2 separate regions of the Homo sapiens genome follow, and region 1 is linked to region 2. The links come from fine-mapping of genetic effects on gene expression. Tissue or cell type: skin. Region 2 holds a variant in brackets; the other region holds the start of a gene. All regions are shown on one strand. Distances are between the middles of the regions.

Region 1 (8,182 bases), 31 kb after region 2:
ATCCGTGTGTCCTTCTGCTGGGAGGAGGGTGGGTGAGAGGATTGAGATGGGAGCATGAGACCAGGCAGGAAGCTGATGGAGCAGAAATTCTCATGCAATTTCCAGAGTCCTGCAGGCCCACTCGCTGTCATGGGTGGATGAGATAAGCACTCACACCCCCGACCCCATTTCTCATTCTGCCTTCTGGCCTCCCCTCTCCTGAAGCTGCAGGGTAGAGCAGTGATCTCCAACATGGGGATTGTGACACTCTCAGGTTGTGAATCAATTTATTCATCAACATGGGTATCTTATACATTCAACTAGAATCAAAAGAAATAGAAGAGTGTGCATGGCACAGTGTCTTATTCATCAGTGTTCAATTAAACTTTCTTTTGGACTGATGTAATATGAGTGCTTCCTAGCAAGTCACAGCCAAACAGTTACTAAACACTGGAAGGAAAAATCCTCTGGGTATAAGCTCGCCTCCATCTTTCTTAAAAATCACTGACTACCTGTCCGGGCATGTTGCTCCCCCTCACCCCGCCCCACACACACAAAGAGTTCAGAGCTCACAGTGTCAGTTCTAGGTGCTTCGTATGCTGAGACTGGGTGTGGCATTTGGCCTGGTTTTCTGTGCTAAAAACAGGGTTGAATTTAGGCCTGGAGAGCAGCCAGTGCCAGGGAGAAAAGCACATTCCTGAGGGCAGGGCTGGAGTTGCCATCTCTTGGAAGAGAGGAGCCCAGCTGGCCCTCCTTGGCCTTGGTCCCCATCTGTCAGGGCAGCTGAGTCAGGCTGGGTAGAGAAAACAGCAGTGGGTGATGATGACGGGGCAGGGGGTGTCAGAAGCTGGGTTCGAGGGAGGGCAGTGGGGCAGGGCCAGGGCTCTGTGGATGCAAGAGTCCCTCTCTCAGCAATCCTGAGACTTTGTGGTCAAACAGCCCTGGGTTGGACTCTTCTCTCTACATTTTCTCAAAGGGTCAGATAAGCTATTTTCTAGTAGCCCTGTTTATCTCCCTGTATGACAACAACATTAGATTTTTGGATATTGTCAGCTTCCCAGCCCTTCCTCAGTCACCTCCAATGCACATCTGGGCACACCATGTGCTTTCTGTCTTGGCAGCAGAAGGACGTTCAAACCACTCAAGCCCCAGCCCACAGGCAGCAACCCTCACCATAGCCCCATGCTCAAAAACTAGCCAAAGCCACGTGTTTAACGGCCCACTTGCTTCACACTGGACCAAGCCTCAATCCTTCTTCTTGGGGAGTGCTGACACTGGTAATGTGGCGTCATCATCTGGGGTAAATACACAAGGTTCATTGTCTCAAACCAAGAAAATCGAGTACATGGACACAAGAAGTGGGTTTAGGAGCAGGGGTTTAATAGGCAAAAGAGAGAGAAAGAAGAACAGCTCTCTCTCTCTCTCTCAGCACCTGAATGGGACTTCCAGCCTACAGCAGAGTGCACTGGATTTTATAGACGGGTTTGAAGAGGTGGTATCTGATTTCCATAGGGCCCACAGATTGGTTGGATCAGCTGTGACATTTACATAGTGCTGGAAGAAGCTGACCACCCCACCCTAATCTTATTATGCAAATGGACTTTCCACTTGGTGGATGCCATGTTATCTGCTTTCTACTGTGCATGTGGTTGGAAAGGAAAAGGGAAGATGGAGCTGCCATTTTGAAAATGCCTAGTCCCAGGTAGCCTTTTCCTATTGGCACAAATGCTGGCATTCACCTGTGGAAGCTTCTAGCCTGCCTTTCTATGTCTGTGGCTTGATTTTAATGGCTGCTGTTTGTTGGAAAAGTATATGATTTGGAGGGTGCTTTTCATTAAAAGAAAAACCTTACCAAGGACTTTCTTACCTTCACTATCTGCCTAAAATAATTTCTTCTTAACTCCTATATTACCGGGTCCTATTCAGGTTATAAAATTTATTTCATGCTGGGCACGGTGGCTCACGCCTGTAATCCCAGCACTTTGGGAGGCCAAGGCAGGTGGATCACCTGAGGTCAGGAGTTTGAGAACAGCATGGCCAACATGGCAAAATCCCGTCTATACTAAAACTACAAAAAAAAAAAAAAATACCTGAGTGTGGTGGCAGGTACCTGTAATCCCAGCTACTTGGGAGGCTGAGGCAGGAGAAGCGCTTGAATCCGGGAGGCAGAGGTTGCAGTGAGCCGAGATCGTGCCACTGCACTCCAGCCTGCGCGACAGAGTGAGACTGTCTCAAAAACAAACAAAAAACAAAACAACAACTTATTTCATATACACGAGCACCTGTGTGTCATTTCTCCTGAAGTCCATTACAATTCCCTGAGGGATTTTTCCCAGCAAGCAGCAGGAGCTGCTAAAACCCCATATCAAAATTCCCGAAGCAGCCGCCTGTGCATTCCACATCCCAAAGCTGCCCACTCTGTGTTGTCACTGTTTAGGGACAGTGGACCTAGAGCTGTTTGAGGACAGGGAGCAGGGCTGCATCACTCACTGCCATGTCCCTAGTTATTGGGAACCCTGTCTCTTTCCAGGGTCACAGGATTCTCATGGCTTCCTGGGAAATAACAGTAAACTCCAACATCTGTTGGTCATATTTTCTCACCCTATTCCCTCTATGTAAAGAGCACCCTGGCATGAGGGGCCCCTGCAGGTCACAGACACCATCTAGACTGGACCCAGGTACCCCTGTCTCAGCCCAGCAACCCCCCCCAGTCCCAGGCCCAGCTCGTCCAGAAAGGCAAGCAGGCCCTGATCCCAGGCACCCGGGGGCTGGCCTCAGGGAAGACTTTCCCACAACCCCAGCTGCTGGTGGGAGACCTGAGCTTCTGGAACGTGGCACACAGGAGAGCACTGGCTGTCCTCCTTTCATGGGCTTCCCCTCTGGAACAAGCACGGAAAGGGCTGAATCATCATTCTGGTGGCATCCGGGTATGATTTCCACCTGGCCTCAGGGAGCCTCTCCCAGGTGACAGACAGGAATCTGGTGAAATTTCAGATGTTCAAAAATAATGTTAGGGCTGGGATCGGAGACTCATGCCTGTAATCCTAGCACTTTGGGAGGCCGAGACGGGTGGATCACCTGAGGTCAGGAGTTTGAGACCAGCCTGACCAACAAAGTGAAACCCTGTCTCTACTAAAAATACAAAAATTAGCTGGGTGTGGTGGCATGCACCTGTAATCCCAGCTACTCGGGAGGCTGAGATAGCAGAATTGCTTGAACCTGGAAGGCAGAGGTTACAGTGAGTCGAGATTGCACCACTGCACTCCAGCCTGGGCAACAGAGTGAGACTCTCTCAAACAAAAACAAAAACAAAAACAAAAAAACCCAGAATGCTAGGAATGCAGATGTCACTGAGGGAGAGGACTGGGCCTCACCAGTGCCTGAGGGCCCATCCTCTGATATCTGCCTGGGTGGCTGGAGTGCTCTGTGTTCCATCTGCACACTTCAAGCTTGCAAGCTGGTCCCTGCTACCTGCAACAAGAACTTGGGTGCCAGTCCCTGGATGGCTGAACTGGATCCCTTCCTGCTTAAATGCTCTACAGCAGCAGCAAAAACTGTAAGAAACCACTGAAATTCAAATCAGGAGAACAAAGCAGCTCTAGTGCAGCTGGCCAACTGTACCGGGGTGTTGGCCAACTCTCTGGTGTCAGGCCTCTGAGCCCAAGCTAAGCCATCATAACCCCTGTGACCTGCACGTATACATCTAGAGGGCCTGGAGCAACTGAAGAACCACAAAAGATGACATTCCATCATTGTGATTTGCTCCTGCCCCACCCCAACTAATCCATCAACCTTGTGACATTCCTCCCCTAGACAATGAGTCTCATGATCTCCCCACCCTGCACCTTGTGATCCCCATCCCTGCCCACAAGAGATAACCACCTTTAACTGTAATTTTCCACTACCTACCCAAATCCTATAAAACTGCTGTACCCCTATCTCCCTTTGCTGACTCTCTTTTCAGATTCAGCCCAGTTGCACCCAAGTAAAATAAACAGTCTTGTTGCTCACACAAAGCCTGTTGGTGGACTCTCTTCATATGGACTCATGTGACATTTGGTGCCGAAGACCTGAGACAGGAGGACTCCTTTGGGAGACCGGTCCCCTGTCCTCGCCCTCTCTCCATGAGATCCACCCATGACCTCGGGTCCTCAGCCCAGCCGAAGGAACTTCTCACCAATTTTAAATCGGGTAAGTAGCCTCTTTTCATTCTCTTCTCCAACCTCTCTTGCTAGATATCCCTCCACTCTTTAATCTCTCCCTCCCTTAATTTTGGTTCCTTTCCGTTTCTGGTAGAGACAGAGGAGACACGTTTTGTCCATGAACTCAAAATTCTGCTGCTGGTCACAGACTCGGGAAGACAGTCTTCCCTTGGTGTCTAATCACTGTGGGGATGCATGTCTGATTATTCACCCACATTCCAGAGGTGTCTGACCACTGCAGGGACGCCTGCCTTGATCCTTCACCTTGGTGGCAAGTACCACCTCCCCTGGATGGCAAGTACCAACCCCCCTCTCCATGTCTCTACCCTCTCTTTTCTCTAAACTTACCTTTTTACTATGGGCAACCTTCCACCCTCCATTCCTCCTTCTTCTCCCTTAGCCTGTGTTCTAAAAAACTTAAAACCTCTTCAACTCTCACCTGACCCAAAACCTAAGCATCTTATTTTCTTCTGCAACAGCATTTGACCCCAATACAAACTTAACAATTGTTCTAAATGGCCAGAAAATGGCACTTTCGATTTCCCCATCCTACAAGATCTAGATAATTTTGTCAAAAAATGGGCAAATGGTCTGAGGTGCCTGATGTCCAGGCATCCTTTTACACATCAGTTCCTCCCTAGTCTCTGCTCCCAATGTGACTCATTCCAGATCTTTCTTCTTTCTCTCCTGTCTGTTCCTTCAGTCTCCACCCCAAGCTCTGAGTCCTTTAAATCTTCTTTTTCTGTGAACTCATCCGACCTCTCCCCTCCTCCCCACACTGCTCCTCACCAGGCCAAGCGAGGTCCCAGTTCTTCCTCAGCTTCCACTCTCCCACCCTATAATCCTTCTATCGCCTCCCCCACTCACAACCGGTCCAGCTTACAGTTTTGTTCCGTGACTAGCCCTCCCCAACCTGCCCAACAATTTCCTCTTAGAGAGGTGGCTGGAGCTGAAGGCAGAGTCAAGGTTAATGATCCTTTACATCTTAACAAAATTATCCACTACCCTGACTATTCCTGGACTACAGCCACATCTCAGTGCCGCCCTTCTCCCCAACCTAAAGCCTCCTTCACGTCTTCCTCTTGTATCCCCCAACCTTAACCCACAAGTATGGGACACTTTTACTCCCTCCCTGGCAACCAATCACACGCCCGTTACTATCCCATTAAAACCTAATCATCCTTACCCCGACGTGCTGCAGAGGACACAGCAGAGACATAATAGCGGGCCATGTGCCATCACTGGGAACACAGATTGTCCTCAGGCCTTGATGACTCAGAGAGTCAGGGCTGGGTTGGGGACGCGTAAAGGCTTGGGAGCCCACAGTGGTTGCCTCACCCAGCCTGGAAGGCCAGCGATGTCTTCTAGGAGAAGAAGACATTTGAGCTACTATTTCAAGAATGAATGAGAACTGTGCCTGTTTCGACAAAGCTGAACCCAGAGGCCAGAATGCAAGGCAGGAAGAGGAGACTGGAGTGGGCAGCAAGGCTGGGGCATTTTTATGGGCCCTTGGAGAACTCCAGTCTATCCTGAGGGCACTGACCATGGCCCAGGCCTAAGCAGGGGATGGAAGTGACCAGATTTATGGTTGTAGAACATCCCTGTATCTCTCTTGTGAGGAGGGTGGAGAGGAGGGTTGAGTCTGGAGCTGGGTAATGGTGCAATCACGAGGGGCCTGCAGTCTTCCTCCTCCCTTGTGGAGAGGGGACAGCGTGTTCTCCTTCTCCATTGCTCTCTGCTCCCCTGGCTTCTCCATTTGCAGTTCAGGAAAGAGTAGTGTCCTCCATACTAAGGGTGGCAACATTTTATTGGGTGGTATAACTGCTTGAGTATGTCATAGATATTATTTTTTTAATTCAAGAAACAGACACAAAAATGGGTTAGTGTACACTGCACAGATTTTTATGAACTGCCTTATAGTGAAATCTTCCTTCATGACTGTGGTAAGTCACATATTGAGGGAGAATTTATATTTTTTCCAGCGAAGCAAAACCAACAAGAATGAAGTGGTCAGGTATGGTGGCTCCTGCCTGTAATCTCAGCACTTAGGGAGGCTGATGAGGAAGAATTGCTTGAGGCCAGGAGTTCAAGACCAACCTGGGCAACATGGCAAAATCCAGTCTTTACAAAAGTTTTTTTTTTTTTAAAAGCTGGGCATGGTGGCACACACCTGTGGTCTCAGCTATTTGGGAGGCTGTAGCAGGAGGAACGCTTGAGCTCAAGAGTTCCAGGTTGAAATTAGTCATGATAAGACCACTGCACTCCAGCCTGGGCAACAGAGTGAGACCCTGAACGAAAGAAAGAAAAGAAAAGAAAAGAGAAAAGAAAAGAAAAGAAAAGAAAAGAAAAGAAAAGGGCCAGGTGTGGTGGCTCACACCTGTAATCCCAGCACTTTGACAGGCCAACTCAGGTGGGTCACCTAAGCTCAGGAGTTCAAGACCAGCCTGGGTAACATGACAAAACCCCATATCTACAAAAAATACAGAAATTAGAATTAGCCGGGCATAATGTCATGGGCCTGTAGACCCAGCTACTCAGGGGCTGAGGCAGGAGAATTTCCTGAGCCTGAGAAGTGGAAGTTTCAGTGAGCTGAGATCACACCACTGCACTGCAGCCTGGGTGACAGAACGAGATCTTGTCTCAAAAAATAAAATAAAATAAAAATTAAAAAAAATTAGGGCAGGTGCGGTGGCTCACACCTGTAATCCCAGCACTTTGGGAGGCCGAGGTGGACAGATCACAAGGTCAGGATGGTGAAACCCCATCTCTACTAAAAATACAAAAATTAGCCAGGCGTGGTGGCGTGTGCTTGTAATCCCAGCTACTCGGGAGGCTGAGGCAGGAGAATCGCTTGAACCAGGGAGTCAGAGGTTGCAGTGAGCCGAGATCGTGCCACTGCACTCCAGCCTGGCTACAGAGCGAGACTCCGTCTCAATTAAAAAAAAAATTTAAAAAGGAATGAAGAAGGGTGCAGGCATGGCCTGGCTTCCTTCTTGCCTAAGTGCTGCTGACTTAGATGTCCCAACACATCTCCCAATAACGGGCTTCATCTCTCAAACCATGGTTCCAGGCATTTCCTGGGATGGCTCGAGGCAGGTAGAGGCCTAGACGCTGGTGGGAGAAAGCAGGTTTCTTGGGTCAGGATTAGGATTGTGTCCCGAGGAGAGAGGAGTCTAGCTGACCCTCCTTGGCCTGAGCCTGATCTCTCAGGGTGGCTGAGTCAGGCCTGGGGTGAGACAGTGGAGGGAGATCATGACAGCGCAGGGGGCTCTCAGAGGCTGGGAAGCGGGGAGGGTGGCCAGGGCTAGTCCAGTGCTCCTGTCTCTGCCCCTTCTCCAGGTGTCAAAAAAGCCTTTGCACACAGAGCTGTCCAATGCCTCCGCCAGCCCCGTGGAGTCCCCAACCCTATCCAATCCATTGTCTGGGGACAGGTCTGTCTTCGGCACTGGAGCCCAGCTCTGCCTTGGTGGAACTGATCCTCAGGGGTTGGAACTCTACCTCTACCCACGGTGAAAGGAGGTTGTTTTTCTGACAAGTAAGGGCAAGATCCTGACCTCAGACAGACATTTGTTTAATTCTCCCATCTCACTTTCTAATCCAAGCAAGACACGGTCCGAGGACCCACTGCTGGTCACAGACACAGGCTGGACCAGAGCCCAGGTCTCCTGAACTCCAGTCCACAGGCCTCCAACTGCTGCCCTACCCTGCCTCTGCTGGCCCAGCCCCTCTGGGAAGGGGAGGCAGGCCTTGGTCACAGATATCCCTGGATGAGACCCAAATCTGACATTCCCAGGGTTCCTCGGTGGGGCTGGCAGAGCTGGGCTCCTGGAATGTGAAACCGTGGGGGCCTTGACATTTCCCACTCTCAAAGGCTCTCTCTTCACTTGCTCTTTTGTCCAGGAATAAATAGAATGACTCTTCCACCTGGCATCTTTGTGGTGTTAGTTCCATCTGGCCTCAAGGAGCCCCTCCCAGGGGATAGGCAGGGATGGGGTGGCATT
Region 2 (8,182 bases):
CTCTAAGCAAGTTAAGGAGAACATCTGATGCAAGAGGTTGGTTTGTGGAAGGAGACAGAAAGACAGTGAATCAACTGAACTTAAACTAATGGTACTGCATGTAAAACTTGAAGACTGAGTTCAAGGTCCCAATGAATATACATTTTTTTTTTTTTGAGATGGAGTCTCGCTCTGTCACCCAGGCTGGAGAGCAGTGGCTCGATCTCGGCTCACTGCAACCTCCGCCTCCCAGGTTCAAGCGATTCTCCTGCCTCAGCCTCCCGAATAGCTGGGACTACAGGCACGTGCCACCATGCCCAGCTAATTTTTGTATTTTTAGTAGAGATGGGGTTTCACCATGTTGGCCAAGATGGTCTCGATCTCATGACCTCGTGATCCGCCCACCTCGGCCTCCCAAAGTGCAAATATAAATTTTAATTATGTACTGAGTTTGGAGTTTATAGACCCTAAACTGCATTCTAACAATGGAATGATTGATTTTTTCGGGGAGAGAGGGAGAGGGTGATTCATGTAAGGATGAAGAGAAGACAATATAGTCATTAAAAAACAAAAAAAAAAAATCACAATCAGATGAGGTGGTTGCTGAGAGCAAAGAGATTATAGAATGGAGTGAAAAACATTTTTTTTTCGGGTGGAGTTTTGCTATGTTGCCCAGGCTGGTCTTGAAATCCTGAACTCAAGTGAGCCTCCTACCTCAGCCACCTGAGTCGTGGGAATTACAAGCATGTGCCACTGTGTCTGGCTTGAAAGAGGAAATTTTTAAATGCCAGCTTTAGCCTCTAGGCCAGCTGCTGAAACAAGGACTAAGTTGGACTTTTATATAATCTTCCTCACTTTGAGGTGAACATATTTTATTTATTTTTTTCTTTTTTTCAGACAGGGTCTCACTCTGTCATGCAGACAGGAGTGCAGAGGCGTGATCTCGGCTCACTGCAACCTTTACCTTCGAGGCTCAAGTGATCCACCCGCCTCAGCCCCCTGAGTAGCTGGGACTACAGGCGTGTACCACCATGCCTGGCTAATTTCTTTTTTTATTTTTTGGAGAGATGGGGTTTCACCGTGTTGCCCAGGTTGGTCTCGAACTCCTGGACTCAAGCGATCCTTCTGCCTTGGCCTCCCAAAGTGCTGGGATTACAGACATGAGCCAACATGCCTGGCCTATGTGAATATTTTCTATGTTAACTGATTCCGTTGCTGTTTGTCTCAATGCCTTCATACTCCTCTATCAAGTATTGGTTTATATTGTTTGATTCTTGGTATTTACAGTATGAAATAGTAAGAGAGGTTGTTAATCATCTGGGAGATGGACAATGCATTTTCAAACCCCTCTTCTCTAGAGAAGATTAAAAGTCTTTGGGTGGTAAAACTGATAGTTGCATCACATTACTTGGAAAATGGTATTGTTGCTGCCTTTATTTTGAAGTTGAAAATGGCTATAATGGGTGTCAATACATGCTTATCTTTGAATGGGGTGGACTGTGCTAGACTTTCTATTATCACCTTGTCCCCAACACCCACTCCCTTCTGAGATGGGAACCACATTTTCCAGAATCACTTCCCCTATATGGGGCCCAGAAGGTGAATTGCATGATGTGAAAAATTCAGGGATAATGGGCACTATCATCATGTCCTCATGCAATTCACGTTCTGACCCCTCATAAAGCGACTACATTAGTCCATTTGCATTGCTAGAAAGAAATACCAAGGCTGGGTAATTTATAAAGAAAAGAGATTTAATTGGCTCGTGGTTCTATAAGCTGTATACAGGAAGCATGGTGCCTGCATCTGCTTCTAGTGAGGGCCTCAGGAAGCTTACAATTATGGCAGAAGGCAAAGGAAGAGCAGGCATGTCACATGGCAAGACAGGGAGCAAGAGAAATGTCAGACTCTTGTTACCAGCTCTTGCACAAACCAACAGGGTGAGAACTCACTTATTACTATGGGGAGGGCACCAAGCCATTTGTGAGGAATCTCCTCCCATGACCAAAACACCTCCCCAGGCCTCACCTCCAACATTGGAGATCACATTTTAACATGAGAGTTGGAGGGGACAAACATCCAAACTGTATCACAGACAAGGGCAGGTATTTGTAAGTTTTCAAAACCAGAGCTAGACTGTGCCCCAACCACAGATGCTGTGCCAGATGTTGTATCTTTATTGGGGCAAATCAAAACAGTGTTTGATCCTTGGTAGGCAATTATTGATCTGGCAAATGTGTTCTTACCAAAACCCTTCAGTAGGAGTGGAATTCTGCTTCCAGAAAGACGAGGTAGGCATATGTTTCCATATCTCTCCTGCTCAGTACAGCTATAAAACAAGCATAAGAAGACTCAGAAAGGTAGGGTAAGAAGGCAGACGAAGGGAGGACCTTGGGACCACAGAAATGGCAGAGCAGGGAGTTTCCCTGAGTTTTCTTTTTTGCCTCATATATCCTAGATGCAACTCATGAGAAGCTGGAGGACCTGGAGAAGCTGGCAACTCAAAAAGGCCAAAGGGTGCAGACAATAAAAGCCCCAGACAAGCGTATAGAACCACACGCCGTCTTTTTACTTGCCGTAAGTGTCATATTTTTCTTCTTTAATGTCACATAAGAGCAATATTTCCTTCAGGTATCTAATCACAAGAACCACTGCAAATTCTAGATCCATGAGATCAGTCTTTCTGTGGAGAATTCATGTAGAGATCCCTGATCACACACTTGTCAAATAGAAAGTTTCCCAGAAAATCAGATACCATGTGTTATGAAAGAAAAGAAAGTATCTAGTCACTAAACACCTAGTTTAGAATAAAACGCCAAACACCCAGTTTAGAATAATTTCCCAAAAAGTGTTTTCCTAAAGTAACTGAAATTTTGAAAATTGTATGAGGAGAAAGTACATTTGATTTCTTCCTTTCTCTGACTCTTGCATCCTTCATTTTCCTTCTGCCTGTGTTAATCCCCCAGGACTGCCATAATCAAGGGCACCAGAGGGGTGGCTTGAACAGGAGAAATTCAGTTCCTCACAGTTCTGGAAGCCAGAAGTATGAGATCAAGGTGTTGGCAGGATGGTTTCTTCTGAGGGTCTATCTCTTGGCTTATCCATGGCCAACTCCTCCCTGTGTCTTCACATGGCCTCTGTGTGTGTGTCTGTGCCCTAATATCCTCTTCTTATAGGGACACCAGTCAGCTTGGATTAGGTCCTGCTCATATGACCTCATTTTACCGTAATCGCCTTTTCAAAGACCTTATCTCCAAATACAGTTATATTCAGAGATACTGGGGTTAGGACTTCAACACATGAATTTTGCGGGAGACATAGGTCATCCCATATTAATGCCCAAACAAAATTTATTACTTCACATAGTCATGCCCCAAATGAAAATTAAACAACCCAAAATTAAATAGAATTTTTAAATTTCATCATTTCTTTATTATTATTATTATTATTTTTTGAGATGGAGTCTCACTCTGTTGCCCAGGCTGGAGGACAGTGGCATGATCTCAGCTCACTACCAGCGCCACCTCCTGGGTTCATGCCATTCTCCTGCCTCAGCTCCTGAGTAGCTGGGACTACAGGCGCCCGCCACCACACCCGGCTCCTTTTTTGTATTTTTAGTAGAGACGGGGTTTCACCATGTTAGCCAGAATGGTCTTGATCTCCTGACCTCGTGATCTGCCTGCCTCAGCCTCCCAAAGTACTGGGATTACAGGCATGAGCCACCATGCCCAGCCGATTTCTTTGTTTCTTTTTTTTTTTTTTACTATTAATGTTATTTTTTATGAGAGAGAGCACGCCAAGTATTGCTATAAATATTAGGATTAATTCTATTGATGTGCTTCATGATCATGTATATTTTATGAAGATTTATTAGATCAAAAATTACAAGATTTATCTTAAAGTAATCACTCTTATATTAACTGTATATTTTAGCACTGTTTTTATCTATTGGAATATTTTCATAGCTATAGTTATTAAAATTCACCATAATCATTAATTAGAGCCATAATTACACTTTTATAATAAATATACATTTATACTTTAACCGATGGATAAAACATCAACCTAAATATCCAAAAGGAAATTTTTAATCAAGTGACTTCTAGGAGGGTGTCTGTTCTGACGGTGGCTATTCAGGAACAAAGAGCAAATCTGAAGAAAAGGCCTGGTTCCCACTCTGGCCACACCTGTTGCCACACTGATGGGATGTGCTGATCACAGCAAGATCACAGTCAGGATAAGTGTGGGGCCAGCAATGGCCTTGCTCAAGGCACTTTGTGCT[T/G]AGGACACGTGACAGCCTGTGTGGTGTGTGTGTGTGTGTGTGTGCGTGTGTGTGTGTGTGTGTTTGCTTCTGTTTTTCTGTGGGTAAATACATGACCCAGAAATTTCTCAAAATAAGTTTATTCTTACTACATAAGATCCACTCCATCACAGCTCTTTGTGTTCTGCTTTCTTGTTTATTGGATACCTCTTCAGGCCCAGGGCGGCTCATGGAGGAGACAGGGACTCTCCCCAGGTCGAAGGCCCAAGGCCTGGATGATGGGGTGGGGCCCAGGATGGGTGCCAGGGGTCTGGAGGACATGAGTGGATGAAGGCCCCGGGCTTCAGCTTCCTCTTGGTGGAATGTGGGTGATGAGGTCCGACCATGCAGCGCTGCTGTGAGGACCGGATGAGAGGATCCCTGGGAGGTGGCCGGTGACTTGGTACCGTCACCTCAGTGACTGTTCTTCGTCCTCATGGATGTTCAGAGAAGACTTGCCCACTCTCTCCACCAGATACAACCAATAAAACCTCTGAAAATTTCAGCCGAACTTTATAGCACTTTCATTCTTTTCCAATTTATTTGACGCTATTTAAATCAGACCTAGTGATTCTGGGATGCCTGAGATTCCTGTCCCTTAGAAGGGACGTCAGGTGCCTTCTGTGCGCACACGTGGCATTTGGGCGGGAACCCAGAGCCCCGACTCTGGGCTTGTTGGACTGAGATCCAAGGAGGGATTCACTACATTGGTGTAAGGTGCGGTCTGTGTTTCAGATTCTTGTGCCAGATGAGGTGATGCTTTGATGTCAATACCTCGTGTTGGGGGAAGGTTGGGGATCTGGACCAGTGGTCTAGGGGGCCTGTATGGGGCAGGACCCAGACACCTGAGGATTCCAGGTTTAAGAAGGGCGGGGCTGAGCGAGGCCTCTCGGCGCGTGTAGGTGCCTTGGGCACCTACATCCTGCTGTGCGGCTTCAGTGGGGGCGTCCAGGGCGGGGTCTGAGCTGGGAGACCCGCCTCTCTCCTGCTCTCACGGAGTCACTTAAAACTTTTTAGTTTTCCACTTAAATGACCAAATGAGATCATTTCATGGGGTGGTGGGGGGAGTGCAGGCAAGGAGAGTCACATGTGGACAGGGTGAAGGTTTAGGACGCTCACTGTGGAGGATGAGGAAGCAGCCACCCCGTGGGTGGGGTGGGTCTGTCGCTTTCTAGGCGCCAGCACAGCTCTCACGCCCTGCAGAATCCTAGCATGGGGAGGCAGAGCTCACCCAGCATTGGGTGTGCTCCCACTGATAGGCCCTGAGCTAGGGTTAGGCCTGTGAGACAGGGCATTTGCCCTGTGATGCCAGATTGCTGCCATGGTGATGTGCCGGGTCCAGAGTTCCCGCACGTGCAGACACCTGGCCACCGGGCCCGTCTGGGGCCACTGAGGCGAGGCTGCCAACTGTGGGGCGATGATGGAACCCTTTGAGTCAGAATCTGCCCAGGGAAGCCATCGGGCAGTCCGGGAGCCTGGGTTGGCCTCGGATGACTGAGGCCCAGGGACGCAGGCCCTGTGCAGACCCCCTGGCCCTGAGAAACAGGACCCAGAAAGGTGGTGGCTTCTTTGACTTTGGGGAATCCAGGTTGGTGGAGACCCTAGGGCTGAACGCTCCCTAAGGAACCTGCTTCTGGGTTGGGTAAGCAGCAGCGTGGCCCCCTCCCTGCGATCTATTCCACATCAGCACTGGCCACGAGGGTTTGTCCCTGGCACAGGGCCTGAAGAATGTGCTTCAGGTGCCTTGGCCAGCCTTTGCTTCCTCCTTCCAAACCCGAGGGCTCCTCCATAGCCCACATCCTCCACACCCCGCCCCACCCACTCCCTCTCAGGCTCCAGCTTTGGCCCAAAGTCAGACTAAGTGTGGCATCTCTGGGCGTTGGACCTGCCCAGTGGGTTTTCCACGATCCCAGGGGACGCGTGCCTGGGATGGGTGTGTGGCAGATCAGGTTTCTGTTAGCGACCAGAAGAGTCAGTTTCCACTAAACTTTATTTTTGATGAATGCATACCTTAAACATTATAGAACTGGATAAACTAGTGCCTGGGGATGAGGGCGGGAATGAGAAAACAAGCCCATTAAAACCCCAGCTGGGTTTTCTCAGACCCTAAAATCTGATCAAATAATAATAGCATTCTTCCACATATTCCTCATACTGGGGTCCATTTAAGATTAAGAAACTTTCCAAGACTCTGGAGAAAGCTTTCCAGACCCTGGACACTAGTTAAAGATTAGATATTGATAAGAATGAAACACGCTGTCTTGCAGGTGCACTCCGCACATAGGCGTGGAGCTTAGAATGCATATAAGCACTAGAAAAAGAAGTTTGTAGCTTTGAGTTGGTCTGGTAAGCTACTCTGACCTTCTCCCCATAGCCAGTTGGAGAAAGAACCTCCGTTCTTTCCCAGTCTGTCTGCATCTCCTTAACGTACATCAAGAACAAACAGCCGGGTCCTGTTCTGTCCCAGAACTGGTGGGAGAGGGAGTGCCTCTCCGAAGCCCTCTCGCGATCCCCACCTCCTCCCCACCCCACCTGGGCTGCTCCCGATGTTGTGACTGGGTTCAGGGAGCCATGGGGTGGTGGAGGCTGGTGTAGGAGGGTGGCCCCTGTCCCAGGTGCGGCCAGGGTCCTAGTCACCGAGCACAAATAACAAAATAATAAATTTAAAAATAAATGGAAAAAGAGAAAATAAGTGTGTGCACGAACAGAACAAATGGAAAGGCCCAGATGCCTCAGGGTGACAGAGAGAAGGGGCCCCACGTCACCCTCTGTGACCCCTTTCAACAGTCCAAGCTCTCTAATTCATGAATTCTACAGCATTCATTTATAAAGTACATAAATTTATTATGATCCTGTGCTTTGCTCCTGGATAGAAGAGAACTTGAGATGATGGAAAATCTCACAGAAGGGTGAAGGGTTCCCCAGCCAGCCTTGGGGTGGTGCCGGGTTGATGTTGGCCATAGGGGTCATCAGGAGGGTTCAGAGTCCCTGGGCCCCCATCAGCACACGCATCTCATGCTGTCCAGAATTCTAGAAGGGGACCTGTGGGCCTCCTCAGGGCAGCTGCAGGGTGGGCCTCAGACAGGTCACAGAATGAAGTGGGCAGTTGAGTGTGTGTTTCTCTGGCCCCCAAACAGCCACTCAGCATCCCAGATCTCAGGTAACACCAGCCTCTTTCTCCAGGCCCACCCAGGAAGGAGAATCCAGGAGTCATCGTTCCCCTGATGTTCCATTAGCTGACACTGGAGATAGTGACAGAGAGAGACACTGAGCGGGACAGAGATGGCCAGAGATGGGGGCGAGACTGAACATGGGCAGAAATGAGGACAGGAGAGCCAGGAGGAGAGGACAGCGGGGTAGAGAGAGTGAGATTCTGAGAGGGAAATAAAAATGGATGGAGACACAGGTGTAGGGAAAGGGAGAGGTGGATTGAATAGAAGCAGGGGGCAGAGACAGGGAGACAAGGAGAATGGGGGCTCCACCCAGGGCAGAACAGGCATGCAGCTACCCTGCACCCACAATCCCACGGAGGGGACAGGACTCACCTGCGACAAAGCCTGTCATCCGAGGTCCGGGCTGAGTCGCAGTTCTGGTTTATCAGCTTCACCATGAAGGTCCAGGGGCAGCACTGCTCAAAGCAGACTCTGAAGGTGCAGTTTCCACACGTCTGGGTCCTGGCCAAGGGCACGACGGCATCATCATAGCAACAGTGCTGCAGGGGGTCGTAGAACTTGTCCCCACATCTCTTGTGTGGCTGGCACAGCATCAGGTAAGGAGTCATGGGGGCCACTGGAGGAGACAGAGCTGGTGAGATCCAGGAGGTAGTGGCAGGTGGGTCCCAGCCTGGGGTCCCCTGGAAGGTGTACCCCTCCTCCAGCTTCCCAAACACTCCTGGGCTCACCT

Direction of the effects. Alleles are on the strand shown, and positions count from the first base shown. SD is a standard deviation of normalised expression in the study named.
For the expression in skin of the gene that starts at base 3,948 in region 1, allele T in region 2 goes with a higher level than allele G (moderate effect, 0.50 SD a copy in TwinsUK).

The links. PIP is the estimated chance that this variant, and not a neighbour inherited with it, causes the effect.
Region 1: IGFL2-AS1 starts here. The variant in region 2 is the best candidate, but not a certain one, in a credible set for the expression of IGFL2-AS1 in skin (TwinsUK, PIP 0.57).

What each region holds. Positions count from the first base shown.
Region 1 is chr19:46,198,828-46,207,009 of GRCh38, reverse strand. It overlaps IGFL2-AS1 (IGFL2 antisense RNA 1), which reads left to right and starts at 3,948. Exons shown (of 3, transcript NR_135234.1): 1 at 3,948-4,170. It also overlaps a transcript of IGFL2 not described here.
Region 2 is chr19:46,230,160-46,238,341 of GRCh38, reverse strand. IGFL1 (IGF like family member 1) reads right to left here. Exons shown (of 4, transcript NM_198541.2): 2 at 8,181-8,182; 3 at 7,825-8,068; 4 at 7,099-7,521. The coding sequence ends at 7,512. LOC124904728 (a long non-coding RNA gene) reads left to right here. Exons shown (of 2, transcript XR_007067273.1): 2 at 2,438-2,535. Among named protein-coding and RNA genes, the nearest start is that of IGFL1, 4.5 kb to the right of the region's middle. RefSeq lists an enhancer at 8,053-8,182. The variant T/G (reference allele first, on the strand shown) is at 4,262.